2 separate regions of the Homo sapiens genome follow, and region 1 is linked to region 2. The links come from fine-mapping of genetic effects on gene expression. A gene starts in region 2. The other region holds a variant in brackets. All regions are shown on one strand. Distances are between the middles of the regions.

The links. PIP is the estimated chance that this variant, and not a neighbour inherited with it, causes the effect.
Region 1: its variant is fine-mapped to the expression of MTR in atrial appendage (GTEx, PIP above 0.99).

The regions. Positions count from the first base shown.
Region 1 is chr1:237,028,448-237,033,826 of GRCh38, reverse strand. No RefSeq gene overlaps it. Among named protein-coding and RNA genes, the nearest start is that of RYR2, 11 kb to the left of the region's middle. The variant T/C (reference allele first, on the strand shown) is at 2,205.
Region 2 is chr1:236,792,640-236,798,018 of GRCh38, reverse strand. It overlaps MTR (5-methyltetrahydrofolate-homocysteine methyltransferase), which reads right to left and starts at 2,727. Exons shown (of 33, transcript NM_000254.3): 1 at 2,282-2,727. The coding sequence starts at 2,315. RefSeq lists enhancers at 2,122-2,311, 2,412-2,701.

The sequences.
Region 1 (5,379 bases), 240 kb before region 2:
AGCTATATTCGTCTGGGGTACAGGTGGCACAGGAGAAAAGAGGAGGTTACATACAGAGCTAAGACTGTGATGCTTTTGGAAGGTTATAAAATCCAGGAGAATGTTGACACCAACTTCTACAGTTCTTAGTTGGATTTAAACCAAGTAACGGTGTATGATACAAACAGAATTATCTTTTTGAATTTGTCATTGGATGTCGTGATCACAGTGAAATTTCTAAAGGTGAAGGACTAAGGAATGTGAATTAGAGAAAAGGAGCTCTAAACCTCAAGATTGACATGATCTTTCAGCCTCTATGCTGTGATATTTGGCAGAATTCTGTGCTTACACTTCAGGTGGCAGGTGTACTGAGCCACCAATGGGTGCTTGGTTCAGCCATGAAGGTTGAGGTTGCCCAAACCAACATCCTCTCCTTAATATATGCTGTGCACTAATGAGAGCTGAAGGCAGATGTGCAGGGTGGACCTACCCTAAAGCCCCACTCAGAGGGTTTTCAACTGATGCTCTTGAGCCAATCCACTCATTCATTCAGCATTATTTCCGCCTGGTTCTGTGCTCGCTTCCTGGAGTGCAGAGTGAACAAGGCAGTGCCTGCTTCCTGGAGCTTATAGTGTGCACAGTGCAGACAGGTGAGTGCTGTGACAGGTACATAAGATGGGGTGGTGAGGGGACAGGCTGGTGAAGGCCGTAAGGGAAATGCTCCTTGGAGCAAGTGACTTGTAAGCTGAATGGTAAGAAGGCACCATCCAGATCTGAGGCGGGATAGGCCAGGAAGACCAGTGGCCCTCATGATTACAGGGAGTAAGAAGGACCAAGGTCGAGGGAGAGAGCTCAGAGATGAACCCAAGAAGCAAAGAAATGGTGGCACCATCCCAGGAATCTGCACTTGATCTGAGATGGGCCAAGGCATTACATAAAATCTCATCACTGATTTATTTTTAAGTTTTATATTGTACTTAGGGGAATCAGGAATTTAGCAGACGTTCTGAATTCCCTGAAGTCTCATCTTGCCTCAATTGTGAAATCTCAGGGTCTATGGAAATATTTTTCCTGGGCTACACTAGTGGGTTATCTGGATTGGCAGTTGTCAACCTTTTCTTACTGTAGTTGATTAATGATTCGTTTGCTTAAATAAATAAATAAGCACACATTTTTGAGCACCTATTATGTACCAGGCACTGAGGTAGGTGCTAAAAATACAAATGTAACAGGATGGCACTTTCTCTTCTCAGCCTCAGCTAAGGCACCAAAAGGTCAAAAACAATAAAACAGGTAGCAAAGGCTCCCACATTCTAAAGAGAATAGTAGGACACCTATGTGGGGTTTGCAGAGAGGGTGCTGGAAACTGATTTTGAGGCTTACAGTAGAGGTAGAAGTGGCTGAGAGAGATGATTTCTTTGGAGAAAGTTGGAGCGCTGTCTTTATCCCTAACCCCACCCACCCCATCTCAGGGAGGAGACGCAGGGGGCACAAGAGGTGCATCCCCCACTCGCCTCAAGCCAGGAAGACAGGCTGCAAGGAGACTACACAGAAAGCTTGATATGGGTCCCCTGGAGATTTCTATCTGACTCATGCCTGAGAAATGCAAATAGTAAGTGGCTCTTTTGGGGGACCATACACAACCACAGCAGGAGCTAGCTGCCAGACACAGACTGCAGACGGAAGTATTTCCCTTAGACCGGTTATGGCATGCAACCTAGGATGTCTTAAAGGCGTCTTAAAGGTGCCTACCCAAGAAAGCTTCCTGCCAGGGGCTGGATAACCTCAGCACAAAGAGACTGAATGGAGGCGTGCTGAAGATGCAGAAGCCGGGGCTGGGGAGAGGTGAGGTGCGGGAGGCATCAGCACTTGTAGGGAGCTGAAGAGGAGAGGGGTGGGTCCCCTGAGCAACCCCTGAAAACATCACTCAGAGAAAGAATCACCTTCAAAGATCTTCCCAATGCTGGTAACTTAAGACCATTCCTGCTATGCTCTCAGCCTCACTCTCAGTGGCCACCTCCAGCTCTGGAAGGTGAAAGCAGCCTGGTTGGGGTGCGAGGAGGAGCGGCTCAAAGGAGGGAAATTAAAGGGAAGCTGACCTCATAGTCCATCCTTCAGTCTTAGGCTCCTCAGCCAGATGCTCCCAGTCTCTGGAAGGAGACACACTTTCTATTTGAAGCTTAAAGTCATGGTTGTGAAACTGGACTGAACATTCCAGCATGGAG[T/C]CAAGACTGCTCGTGACTAAAAGTGACAGGAATGTCCTCCAGGCAAAAAAACAAGCCTCTAAATGGTTGTAAAGGGACAGAGAGAGAAAAGAATACAGTTGCTTTCAGCATCCCTGTTGAACTCTGGTCTTTCAATGTAACGATTGCACAAAGGTGCGTAACACACACAAGGTTTGCCTTCAGGAACCACACAACGTCTGACTGAAAAAAGGTGCAAAGCGATGACAGCACAGCATGCTAAAAAGCAGGGCTGCAGTTGCAGGAACTCTGGGGAAAGAAGAAGGCTTCAACCCTTTGTTGATGTTGAGGTAGGGTTGCCAGGTAAAAGACAGGGCACCCAGATACATTTAAATTTCAGAGAAGCCACCAATAATTTCTTAGTGTAAGTATGTCCCTTGCGATACTTTTGTTTGTTCCTCTGGTAAGGCTTTGCTCAAGGCACAGAGGGCCCTGGAAACCCCTTTGTTGATCTGACCTCTCCTCCTTGTTGCTCTTTTTCTTCCTGGGCCTTGAGTTCTGCCGACACGCCTGGCCACCCGTGGGTGAATGGCGTACCCTCCATCATCTACTGGGTTTTATTTTTAATTTAATTTTTTCTTTTTTGAGACTGAGCCTTGCTCCATTGTCCCCACCCTGGAGTACAGTGACGCCATCTCAGCTCACTGCAACTTAAACCCGGGTTCAAGCAATTCTCCTGCCTCAGCCTCCTGAGTAGCTGGGATTACAGGTGCCCGCCACCATGCCTGGCTAATTTTTGTATTTTCCCTAGAGACTGGGTTTCGCCATGTTGACCAGGCTGGTCTTGAATTCCTGACCTCAAGCGATCCGCCCACCCCGGCCTCCCAAAGTGCTGGGATTACAGGGGTGAGCCACTGCCCCCCACCCATCTACTGTTTTTTATAACTGCCTCCAGAGAAATTGTGAGAATCCAAATAAGATCATCCAAATATCACCACTAGGCTGTGACTTCTAGTTTATCTCCAGCGTCCACCTCTCCCCCTAAGCTCTACAATTATATCCAACTATCTACGCAGCCCCTCCATGGGAATGCACAGCAGACAGCTCAAATAGGACGTTTCCCAGACAGAGCCCCCATCTCCCAAATCTCTTCCCCAAACCTCTTGTTCTTCAGTCTTCCCCGTCTCAGTGGATGGTGCCTCATTATCAAGCCAAAGACACAGGAATCATCTTTGGATTAACTGTCTTCCCTCACTCCCCACGTCTAATCCATCAGCAAGTCCTACTTCTAAATATATCTCAAATCTGGATGCTTCTAATTACGTCATTGCCAGTGCCCTAGTCCAAGGCCCCCTACCCTCTGCTCTGCTTCCAAAGCCTCTCTCTCCTGCCTCTGCCCGGTCTAGTCCCCCTATACCTCTTCTCTTTGTCCTTGAGTAGAATCCATGCCCTCAATCACACACCTAACAGGGACCTGCTTCTCTGTTCTTTCCCACCCCTCTCATTATCCCATACCCGCCCCCTTTATTCAATGCACTTTAACCGCACTGGCCAAGGCCACCCACTAAGCCCTCCTCTGTGGAGCACTCTCCCTGGGAAGGTCACATGACTGGTGCCTTGTCACTATTTGGATGCTGGCTGAAACATCCTGTCCAAGAGGCCTCCCTGACCACCGTCTCTTTTTTTTGTTTGTTTGTTTTTTTCTGAGACAGAGTTTCACTCTTGTCACCCAGGCTGGAGTGCAATGGCGCAATCTTGGCTCACTGCAACCTCCACCTCCGGGGTTCAAGCAATTCTCCTGACTCAGCCTTCCAAGTAGCTGGGATTACAGGTGCACTCCACCATGCCCAGCTAATTTTTTGTATTTTTAGTAGAGACGGTGTTTCACCATGTTGGTCATGCTGGTCTCAAACTCCTATCCTTAGGTGATCCACCCACCTCAGCCTCCCAAAGTGCTAGGATTACAAGCATGAGCCACCGCATCCAGACTCCTGACCACCATTTCTAAGGTATCAGCCTTCACTCATCACTTTCCCCCTCATTACCTTGCCTTATTTCCTTCTAAATTGGTCATCACTACCCAAAACTGTCTCATGTATTTGCTTGCTGAGCAGAAATCAAAATCCTTGGCAAAGTGAAGATAGTCTATTACCTCTCCTTCAATCCAGCTGACTACTCATTTTGTCAGAAGAGGAAGTTATAGTCTGACAGGATTTGTTCTTTACAAGGCCATCCTGTTTGCTGCCGTTCTTATGAAAATATTAATCAAATAGTTACACAATTATTTTCTTCCAGTCTCTTTCCTGATAGACAGGTTAGGCTTATCGGTCCAAAGACTTCTAGATTATTCTTTCTCTAAATATGTAACTTATTATTTTGATTAATATCCAAAATTCTCCTGCACGAAATCTCCAAAATGAGACCAATGCCTGCTCAGTACTTAAAAAGGTAAATAACTGAAATTTGTCAATACATATGACTCGGATTTTTCCTCTCCATTGTTTCTTTAAATTCAATTTGTACCTTCAAAATAAAACCACACAGTGATACTCGATATAGATAGACAGATTGATGAATAAATAGACAGTTGAGTTTGTTTCAAGTCTCTATCCTGTAGTGTCATTTCGAATCAGATTTCTATGTCCATCTAATAAGAAAAAATACTTACTTTTATTAATATATCTCATTACTGAACCATTTAGTCTTTTTCAATTTTTCTTTATAGAGTTTGCTTTAATTCTCTCATTTTATCTACTAATTTTCATTATTCATGTTTCTCCTAGTAAACTACCCCACATTCAACTTTATTTATTTATTTTTTTTTTTTTGAGAGATTGGGTCTCACTCTTTCACCTAGGCTAGAGTGCAGTGGCACAATCACAGCTCACTATAATCTCAAACTCCAGACACAAACGATCCTCCCACCTCAGCCTCCCAAGTAGCTGGAACTACAGGTGCCCGCCAACATTCTCAGCTAATTTTTTTTTTTTACTTTTTTTGCAGAGACGGCAGTTTCACTATGTTGCCCAGGCTGGTCTCGAACTTCTGGACTCAAGCAGTCCTCTCACCTGTGCCTCTCAAAATGCTGAGATTACACATGTGAACCACCATGCTGGGCCCCCACTTTCATTCCTGTAACATTCCCATTTATATTCCATGTCCTAGAAAGTGTTTTTACTTAGTCAATTAGTTTCCATTGAACATTTTTCTATTTTTC
Region 2 (5,379 bases):
TGCACAGACTTGCTACACTTTGTTTTTTTGGTTTTGTTTTGTTTTGTTTTGTTTTTTTTTGGAGACTAAGTCTCACTCTCTCACCCAGGATGGAGTGCAGTGGCATGATCTCGGCTCACTGCAACCTCAGCCTCCAGGGTTCAAGCGATTCTCCTGCCTCAGCCTCCTGAGTAGCTGGGGTTATAGGCGCTCACTATAAACCCAGCTAATTTTTGTATTTTTAGTACAGATGGGGTTTCACCATGTTGGCCAGGCTGGTCTCGAACTCCTGACCTCAGGTGACCCGCACGCCTCGGCCTCCCAAAGTGCTGGGATTACAGATATGAGCCACCGCGCCCAGCTTCTTTGGGGGCATCTCTTTGCTTGTGCAGTATTCCATTTTTAATATATATTATTTCCCCCTTTGATTTTAATAAGCCGGAGAAGAATTAGGCTGATACCAATTCACTGGATTATTCATTCCTTCATTAATCACTCATCAATTGATACCAATTCACTGGATTATTCATTCCTTCATTAATCACTCATCAATTGAGTTCCAAATAACACTCACAGTCCTAAGCAAGGATGAAACCAAGAAACTTTTAGAAGCTGTAGTTAAAATTTTCTCCCAAGATGTATTTGCTAGCCCACCATCCTCCTTCCCCAGGGCACACAACCATGGTCTGAAGTCACATTTAGTTTTAAGGCCCAACCTTGAGAATCAGGAATTCCCAGCTCTCCATTAAAATTTCATTAAGATTGTACGCCAGTAAATTACTAAGGGTTATTAGGAAGTTAAAACCTGATTCTAATCCCAATAAAAGTTGCTCACATAGACAGAAGCTGGACTACATCTAAGGTCTTTTCTAGGCACAATGGCCTGATTCAGAACTTCAGAGGCCCTAGACTTGGTTAAACTCCACTCAGTGCTCAACTCTAGAAGCCAGCCTTGGGGGTGAGGGGACTAGGCAAGATTCAAACATTCAACAATTTTCCTTTCAGTTTATTTTTTTTTTTTAAATCACTCACTATTCACAGTATTTTAAGTCTTCAGTGGCATTTTGCTCCTGATAATGACACCTAAATTCAGATGAAAGGGAAATAACTTTACTTGTTTAAATTAAATGGGAAGGGGGAGGCCAGAAATCATGAGTAAAAGATGTTTTCCAAATAAATATGATCTCCCTATGATCATTTATTCAATAAGATATAAATCTCTTATAGGGAGGTTTACATTTATTAATTAAATATTAAATATAAATAAGATGTAACCTCATTACATCTTATTTAATATATTAAATAACATATAAACCTCTCATAGGGAGGTTTATATCTTATTTAATAACAGCAGTGATGTGTTTCTCAGCCACAGTTCCACTAGTTTCAAGAACAATTATATCAGTCCCGTTATCAGAACCCAAGAATCAAGAGAGTCACCGGTTAACCTCTGATAAATTTCCTTGTGCGTTACGAATTTAGTATTCCCCCTCTTCCTGAAGCTAAACATCCCCACTATGTGATAGGATATTTACTGTTTTGTACTTATCACTAATTCTCGTTTCTACATCTCCTCACCCGTTTTTACGGGTGTATTTGTCCTCAAATTATAATCAGGCATGACCTTAGAGATCTAGAGCTCGTTATAAAGCTAACATTACGTTCAGTTCTCGTGCTAAACTAGCTTTTTCTCACTGTTGATCCCAGGGCCACCAACATCAGAATCGCTTGAAATTACTACCTCCCATTTCGGTATCTGGAGGTGGGGTCTGCTCATCTATTTTAACATAGTGAGTCTATGCATATTGCAGTTTTGCAGCAGCGTGCGTAGAAGCAGAAAATAAAAAGTTCCATGTAGTAGTTTTAAATAGTTCTCTGAGTTTCCTCGTCTGTCTCTCCGCGCCTGAACTTTCTTTCGCAGTAGGTGCGCAATACATATTTACGAATAAGCGTCACACCATGCAAAAAAAAAAACTTCCAGAGGGCCCAGCTGGTTTATGCTGCGTGGAACTGGAAAGTTTAGTTACTGTGACGTTAAGAATGTGTTTCGGGGGCGAGGGGAGGACGCTTTTTGCAGGTTTTGATGGCTTGCCTGGGGAGAAAGAGGTGAAGGTCGGACAAAGAGTGGAGCAAAACACGTAGCCCTCCGGGCTCCTGCGCTAAGTTCTAAAGGTGCCGCCCACACGCGGGGAAACACCGCCGGGCGTCTCCCGCCGCAGAAGGGAATCGCCCCAGGGATTAGGAGGCCACAGCACGAGTTAAGAAACACAACCCAACCACGCAGACGGGGTCGCAGCGTTACCGGGTTGCGACAGGTCTTGGAGCGCGGGTGACATGTTGTCGAGTCTCCTCCTTGCGCAGAGGGCGCGGCAGAGAAGACGTGCTCTCCACAGGTGACGACGGCCAAGGGCCACGCCAGCCAGCGCCAGGCGAGCCTGCCACACAAGGCCCGGGTCTTTTGACGCCTCCCGTTGGCTCGCGTCGCGGGGGGACTGCGGACCCCGAAAGCCCGCAGCGCCCTAGGGCCTCTCTCGGGGCTGGGCGCGGCAACTGCTGGAGCACGTGCTTTCTTCCCGGGTACCCGGCCAGTCCTTGGTGTCGGCCTAGCAGCCAGACACGCGCGGCCAGAGGCGGAGTCGCGGGACGGCACGGAAAAGGACCCAAGAGAAAACCGGCAGAGGAGGACGACGTGACATCCGGCTCTGAGCCCCGCAGACATTTAGAACCTTTCAGAGCGCGGTTAGTTCTGCGCTCAATCTATCCTCGGCGTGGGAGGTCCCGCCCCTTCCGGCCTGTGATTGGTCTGCCCGAGCTCCTCGCAGCCGCATTGGCTGTCAATATCAACCAATCACCTGCTGTTTAGCCCCGGGGCTCTCTGGGAGATGTAGTCCCGCTCCCCAGTTTCCCGCGGGAGCTTTTCGCGTCTCTGTGTGCCCAGGATCCGGAAGTGTAAGCCTAAGTGGCCCCTCTAAGGAAAAGTCACAGCGCCAAGTTCGTGCTGATCTCGACACGCTGTGTGGTGTCGAGCCTGAAATTTTAGTTCCGTTTTGCTGTTGACTTGCGCTGGGCAAGACAGTTAACCTCTCAGTCTCCACACTCTACAAACAAGAATGATAGGATGGTAGTAATTAGAATTTTTTAGGGTTGTAGTAGGCGTTAAATGAGATCGTTTGACCGCGCTATGAAAACTCTGAATTACCATATGGGGGTGTTAATTGTAACTTATTGACAGTAAACATATATTGAGCACCTACTATGTGTCAGGCATTGGGGCACACACTTGGAATGCAAAATCAGACAAGCTACATCGCACCCTCACGTCCTTGGAGGAGGAACTCACAACCTAGTTAGATTAATAATTGAACAGGGAAAAAAGAACCACATACATTTTAAAAGAGCTAGAGTATTCAAAGGGGCCAGGGAAAGGTTTCAAAGAAGAATCTGGGTCCTGAAGGAAGAGTGGTACCAGGTAAGGTTGTTCCAGTCAGGAGAAGCTCCCTGTGTACAACACAGCACTTTAGGGAATTCTAAAATAAAGGGCAGCTCTGTAAGGCCGAGCATGGTAGATGTGAGAAAAAGCAAATTCATCTAGAAAAATCTCTGTAAGGCTGAGCATGGTAGATGTAAGGAAAAGCAAATGCATCCAGAAAAATAAAAACTATAACCAAATTATGACATTTACTAAGCTTTAAAAAAGGCACAAATTTGCATGCCATTCTCATTTTATTGTATGTAATTATACCTCAATTTTGAAGATTTGAAAAATTATTATAATGCGTATCACATTCTTACCAAGACCATCTTACCAAAGATGGTCTTACTTGGAAGGTGGGGGGAATGGAGTAGGTGAGAGAGAATGCAACAAAGAAGGGAGGGAGGAATGAGATGGCCCTAAATAGCCAAAAATCTTAAGATTATAAGGGCTAGGGTGAGAGTAGGTGAGGGATAAACGACTACACATTGGGTGCAGTGTCCACTGCCTAGGTGATGGGTGCACCAAACTCTCAAATCACCACTAAAGAACTTATTCATGTAACCAAACACCACCTGCTCCCCAAAAACCTATTGAAATAAATAAGTTAAAAAAAAAGAAGAAGAAAAGGAGGAAAGAAAAAAAAGCAAGGTCTTCTATGCTGAACTTATTAAATTATTTATCCAGGCTTGATAAATCATGATGGTTTTCTCATATTTATTATTATGTTTATTCATTTCTCAACTCCTGAGTTTTTATCTGCAAAAAAAGAAGTAGTGAAATTTAACTGTGTAAAGATGCACCTGTCTAAAAAAAAAAAAAAAAGATTATAAGGGCTAGTTGTTTGTTTGTTTGAGACGGAGTCTCACTCTGTCGCACAGTCTGGAGCGCACTGGCACGATCTTGGCTCAGCTCACTGCAACCTCCGCCTCCCGGGTTGAAGCTAGTTTTTTAATTATCATGTATCCCTCAAAGTTTGTTGACGTGTTTCTTGAAAAATGATCTTTCAGGCACCTAGTCGGCAACTGTCCCCCATTCACATTCTCTTACTGGAAATTCCAGGAGTTGTGTGCCAGTCCCTGTTTGATGCAAGTCATCAAAGTTTACTCTCTCAGCTAAAACTGACCAAATTCTGTATTTCTTAAAGTCGTAAAAGAGTAACAAATAAGATTAGAGGAATACATAGTGCCTAAAGGGGCAGTGAATTTCTAGTACAAAAACGCGATTTACAGTTCCAAGAATACTGTATGGGTTGCAATGTGTCCCCCTCAAAGATATGTTGAAGCCCTAACTTCCAGTGCTTCAGAATATGACCCTATTTGGGCCGGGTGCAGTGGCTCACACCCGCAATCCCAGCACTTTGGGAGGCCGAGACTGGTGGATCGCTTGAGGCCAGGAGTTCGAGACCAGCCTGGGCAATATGGTGAAACCCCATCTCTGCTAAAAATACAAAAATTAACCAGGCGTGGTGGCTCACATCTGTAATCCCAGCACTTTGGGAGGCTGAGGTGGGCGGATCACCTGAGGTCGGGTGTTCGAGACCAGCCTGCCCAACATGGAGAAACGCCGTCTCTACTAAAAATACAAAATTAGCCGGGTGTGGTGGTGCATGCCTGTAATCCCAGCTATTCGAGAGGCCGAGGCAGGAGAATCACTTGAACCCGGGAGGGGGAGGTTGCAGTGAACCGAGATTGTGCCATTGCACTCCAGCCTGGGCAACAAGAGTGAAACTCCGTCTCAAAAAAAAAGAAAGAAAAAAAGAAAAGAAAAAGAAAAACACAAAAATTAGCCGAGTGTGGTGGCACATGCCTGTAATCCCAGCTACTGGAGGCAGAGGTGGGAGAATCGCTTGAACCTGGCAGGGTGAAGGTTGCAGTGAGTGGAGATTGAGCCACTACACTCCAGCCTGGGCAACAGAGAGATACTCA